Regions from separate parts of the Homo sapiens genome. Here region 2 is linked to region 1. A link means that fine-mapping ties the variant in region 1 to the expression of a gene that starts in the linked region. Tissue or cell type: whole blood. Region 1 holds a variant in brackets; the other region holds the start of a gene. All regions are shown on one strand. Distances are between the middles of the regions.

What was found. PIP is the estimated chance that this variant, and not a neighbour inherited with it, causes the effect.
Region 2: PIK3R5 starts here. The variant in region 1 is fine-mapped to the expression of PIK3R5 in whole blood (TOPMed, PIP above 0.99).

What each region holds. Positions count from the first base shown.
Region 1 is chr17:8,888,257-8,891,008 of GRCh38, reverse strand. PIK3R5 (phosphoinositide-3-kinase regulatory subunit 5) reads left to right here. Exons shown (of 19, transcript NM_001142633.3): 7 at 97-271; 8 at 883-1,036; 9 at 1,787-1,870; 10 at 2,118-2,752. The region is part of intron 1 of LOC124903922 (a long non-coding RNA gene); the gene reads right to left. Among named protein-coding and RNA genes, the nearest start is that of PIK3R6, 22 kb to the right of the region's middle. RefSeq lists enhancers at 1,461-2,269, 2,270-2,752. The variant T/G (reference allele first, on the strand shown) is at 1,139.
Region 2 is chr17:8,964,413-8,967,032 of GRCh38, reverse strand. PIK3R5 (phosphoinositide-3-kinase regulatory subunit 5) reads left to right here and starts at 1,326. Exons shown (of 19, transcript NM_001142633.3): 1 at 1,326-1,437. It overlaps PIK3R5-DT (PIK3R5 divergent transcript), which reads right to left and starts at 1,186. Exons shown (of 3, transcript NR_184080.1): 1 at 1,030-1,186; 2 at 1-266. RefSeq lists silencers at 913-1,012, 1,083-1,402.

The DNA.
Region 1 (2,752 bases):
TCAGTGGAGCTGAGCACCAGCAGGCACGAGGGGGGTGGCTGCACTGTGGCATGCTGCGCACCCCTGGGTGCCATAGCCGGTCCCCTGTGTCCCCAGCACCGTGCTGCTGCTGAACCCAGTGGAAGTGCAGGCCGAGTTCCTTGCTGTAGCCAATAAGCTGAGTACGCCCGGACACTCGCCTCACAGTGCCTACACCACCCTGCTCCTGCACGCCTTCCAGGCCACCTTTGGGGCCCACTGTGACGTCCCGGGCCTGCACTGCAGGCTACAGGTATGTACCTGGGGCCTGGGGCTCTGGTGGAGCACCTCTCTGAGGAGGTAGCACCCTCTCCCTGCTTCATCTCAGCCACGGTCTCCAGGGTACACTTAGTCTCCTGCACCCAGGTGACATGGCAGGGTGGTGGCTGGAGGGCTGACCTCATAGAGGGTGTTTCTGGTGTGCTGGATCCTAACCAGCTGGGTGGCAGCCTGGGCAGTAGGACTGGGTGCTGATAACTGGTGCCTCAGAAGATGGCATATGCCATAAGAACGAGAATGAGCTTTGGGCTGAAGACCTGGCATCTAGGCCTGGCTCTGTCACAGGTGTCACAGGTCGGCTGTGTCACCCCACACAGCTCCTTCCCCTCTATGGGGTACAGTGAGGAGCGCTGAAGTCCCTCCTAACTGCAGTGCCGTGGCTCTGGATCTTTCTCTCCTGACCATTTCCTGAGAATGGAAGGGCAGGGAGAGGCCTGGCTGCCTGGCCAGCTGTGGGTAGGAGATGGGTGATGAGGCTGGGAGGGGACAGATCACTGCCTCCCTCAGTAAGAAGCTAGCAACTGGAACAGGTGGACAGCTAGCTCACGGTCCAGGAGCAAAGCCCATCTCCTCCTGGGGTTTCAGGCCAAGACCCTGGCAGAGCTTGAGGACATCTTCACGGAGACCGCAGAGGCACAGGAGCTGGCATCTGGCATCGGGGATGCTGCAGAGGCCCGGCGGTGGCTCAGGACCAAGCTGCAGGCGGTGGGAGAAAAAGCTGGCTTCCCTGGGGTGTTAGGTGAGGCTCTTGGGAGAATGGGGTTCTCCCACATTCCCCATGGCCTATTCTAGGTCCCAAGGTGCACGGTCCAGGCGGGCCTGGTGGCTCTGCTCCACACAG[T/G]CACTCAGGGACTCAGCTTCTTCAGCATCTCACTGCTCTGCCATCCCCTAGGGTGTCTCATTCCTGTCTATAGGGGCAGGGTGGGGGTGCTATCATGATGGCAGCTTGTGGGAAGAGGAAAAGAGAGTGCTTACGAGGGCAAAGGCTGGGCTTTTCTGTTGAAGGTGATGCAGAAGCTGGGCACATCACTTCCGCTCATGTTCCTTTGAGCCCGCCTTGGTCACGTGGCCACATCTTGCCCCAAAGGAGCCTGGGAAACATCGTCTCTATGACTCCAGTACCATAGAAGGGAGCACAGACTTTGAGGAACCATTAGCATTCCCTGTTACAATATTCCTCATAAAAACCTTCTGGGCTAGTACTATTATTCTCCCATGGGCACATTGTAAAATGAGGCTCAGAGGTTGTGGTTTGGCCACATTCGCACAGCTCATAAAGGGCATGCCATCTACATGGTGTGCTTGAAAGAAGGGCCTCTGGCTTGGAGCCTGGCACCCTGGCTGTAACTCAGCCTCAGCCTATCCAGCTACATATCCTTGTGCCGATCCTGTCCCATCTCTGGTCTCTTCTCCAAGGCAAGGGGACTGGACTGGCCAATCTCCAAGGCCTCTTCCCAGCCCTCTTCTCCTATCCTCCCTGTTCTTACAGACACTGCAAAACCAGGGAAGCTCCACACCATCCCCATCCCTGTCGCCAGGTGCTACACCTACAGCTGGAGCCAGGACAGCTTTGGTAAGGAGCCGGGGCCCTGGTGACACCCATGCCCCACACTGCCTGAGCTGTGTTTCTGGTCCTGGGTCCATGCAGCTCCCACCCCGTCCCCAAAGCTCTCCCACATGAGCAGGCTCTAAGCAGAGCAAGGGGGCAGTGCTAGGAGTCCTGGGCTGGCCCTGAGTCCTGCTGTCTCCCCTCCAAAGGGAATATAGAAGGGGATCCGGGGCCCAGACGCCCAGACAGTGCTGGCCTTGCTTCCCTGCAGACATCCTGCAGGAAATCCTGCTCAAGGAACAGGAGCTACTCCAGCCAGGGATCCTGGGAGATGATGAAGAGGAGGAAGAGGAGGAGGAGGAGGTGGAGGAGGACTTGGAAACTGACGGGCACTGTGCCGAGAGAGATTCCCTGCTCTCCACCAGCTCTTTGGCGTCCCATGACTCCACCTTGTCCCTTGCATCCTCCCAGGCCTCGGGGCCGGCCCTCTCGCGCCATCTGCTGACTTCCTTTGTCTCAGGCCTCTCTGATGGCATGGACAGCGGCTACGTGGAGGACAGCGAGGAGAGCTCCTCCGAGTGGCCTTGGAGGCGTGGCAGCCAGGAACGCCGAGGCCACCGCAGGCCTGGGCAGAAGTTCATCAGGATCTATAAACTCTTCAAGAGCACCAGCCAGCTGGTACTGCGGAGGGACTCTCGGAGCCTGGAGGGCAGCTCGGACACGGCCCTGCCCCTGAGGCGGGCAGGGAGCCTCTGCAGCCCCCTGGACGAACCAGTATCACCCCCTTCCCGGGCCCAGCGCTCCCGCTCCCTGCCCCAGCCCAAACTCGGTACCCAGCTGCCCAGCTGGCTTCTGGCCCCTGCTTCACGCCCCCAGCGCCGCCGCCCCTTCCTGAGTGGAGATGAG
Region 2 (2,620 bases), 76 kb before region 1:
CCATGACCTTGTGGCCGAGTTTGCACGCCTCTAACAGATATTATGACACAGTTCCATTCAATAGTGGAAGTGGAGATTTCAGCGTTGCCCTTTGTTAACCCACAAATGAAGTGCTACTCTTCCATTGTGAGGGCTGTCGGAGCAGTAGCCAACCTTCTTATCCCCATTTTTTAAACGAGGGAAAGGAGGCATAGGAAGCGCAGTGTCTTGTGGGATTCCCTGGGGAGTCCTTCCAACTCTTGGTAGAGCATCATCTGCAACGTCGTCTGGGGGAGAAAAGGGGGAGGCAAGAAGAGGGCCTTGACCCTGGAGGCAGGAACTCCCGCACACCCTCACTCCCTTCCCCAGGGGCTGGGGAAACCACTCAGGTGACAGTAGCCTTGGTGCCGGCCAGGGAGGGCGGGAAGTCCAGCCAGAGGCTGGAACAGCAGTGCTGAACGCCGGGACTGGCTGGTATTTCTATGAAGGTTCCTGCAGAAGGATGCGGGTCAAGGTGCCCGTCTGCACAGCAGTAGTGCAGGCATTTTAAGGGTTAAGGGCACCCAAAGAAAATAGAAGTAGGGGCCGGGCGCAGTGGCTCACGCCTGTAATCCCAGCACTTTGGGAAGCCGAGGCGGGCGGATCACGAGGTCAAGAGATCGAGACCATCCTGGCCAACATGGTGAAACCCCGTCTCTAGTAAAAATACAAAAAATTGGGCGTGGTGGCGCGCGCCTGTAGTCCCAGCTACCCGGGAGGCTGAGGCAGGAGAATCGCTTGAACCCGGGAGGCGGAGGTTGTGGGGAGTCAAGATCGTGCCACTGCACTCCAGCCTGGCGACAGAGCGAGACTCCATCTCAAAAAAAAAAAAAAAAAAAAGAAAGAAAATAGAAGTAGGAAGAGGAAGTGGGTCGCAGTGAGAGAAGGAAGCAGCTCGTCGGAGCTTCCTCTTTCTCGTCTTTCCCCTAAGCCCCTACCCCAGACCTGCCCCCCTGCTCCGCCCAGCCCTCCTGCGGGGCCAAAGCCGCGCTTCCGACGCGGGGGCCTAACCTCCCCTTACTCCTTGGGGGTCGCTGGTGCTCCGCGCTGGTGCCCCTCGGGCCACTGCCATGGACCGGCCAGGGTCTGCTTCTTCCGAGGGCTGGCGGGTCAGAGCCGGGGCTGCTTCTCAGACGCCTTGCGGCCTCGGGGGCGTGACCCAGAGGATGTGGGGCCGGGCGCGCACCTGGCTGACGCTGCCGGGCCGCCAGGTGGCTGGAGAGGCCGGCTCCGCGGTCAGCCCCGCCCCATTAGGCCCCGCCCCCTGACAGGCTCCGCCCCGCCCGCCGGAGGAGCCCAGGCTGGGCAGATGCTGCGGCTCGCCGCGCGGCTCCAGCTGGGGCGCGGTGGTCCCGACGGTCACCCGAATCGCAGGGAGTCGCCGCTGGAGAGGGGCTCGGCGCCCGGCGGGGACTGCAGGTGTGTGACTGGGCGGCCAGGGCGGATGCGGAGGGCACGCATGGGAGCTCCAGGCAGAGCTGGAGCAAGCTGGGGACCGTCGGGGAGAGTGGGCTCCGCGAGCAGCCGCCGCAGCCCGAGGGCTGGACAGATCCTGCTATCTTCCGGCCCCGTGGACCTGGCCCACCGCGGGGGCAGCGGGTCTGCAAACCTGCGCTCCAGATAACCCCAGAGACTTAAGGGGCGTCGCGGGGACCACTTATCGTTATCCGGGTAACCTCTGCTGGGCGGCTCTGCGCAGCTGTGTCCTCAGCCTCCTGCCTCTGACACAGGACGCCCTGTGTCGTAGGGTCAGGTCCCCTGCCCGCTCCAGCGGGGAACTGTCCGTGAGCGTGGGCATCAGGGCTCTTGTGCCGTCAGAACCTGGGAGTCATGGAAGTGCCCGCGTAAGGCGCCCTCCGTCGAGCCTCACTCAGCCTGCTAGTTAGCCAGCCTTGGGCCCAGACGCGGCTGCTGTCCTAGAGAACTGCACGCTTTCTGCTCTCAGAGGATCTGTGTTTACACACTGGACATCCCCGCGTGACTCGTGTGTGTGTGTGTGTGTGTGTGTGTGTGGGCATGCGCATGTGCGCGTGCTGGCCCATCCCGGCCTGGGGTAAATACACAAAAAGTTCAGGTCAGTAGGAGGAAGGAGATTGTTCAGAAGGAAAAGGAAGGCGAGGTTAAAGCAGCAGGATGTGGTATAAAGCGAGTTAACAAGACTCGGAGTAGAGAGGAGGGGTGGGTTTAGGCAGAATAAGGGCTAAAAGTAGGCCAAGCCTGCCTCCAAGGTCCTCTCTGGACTGACACCCTCGTTTTCCTTCTGTGTCTTCTCATCCACCCCACACTTTCCTTCCTGCCCTCAGGACCACCTGTAAGGCACTGGCTCCCAGAGCTGACTGCAGGTAGGGCTCTCTTGGAGCCAACCCTACAACGTGGCTTTCCAGGGATGGGATCTGGAATCTGTAGTTTTCAAAACTTTGAATGAGCTCCTTAAGTGATGATGCTGAAGCCGTTGCTTGGGAACCATGCATGATGTGGAAAAGAGACCCAAGTTCCAACCGGATCCAGCTGTGTGACCTGCAGCATCACACTGTCCCCCAACCCAGCCTCAGTCTCCTGATTCATAAAATGGGCTGTCATACTGACCCATAGAGCTGTGTGG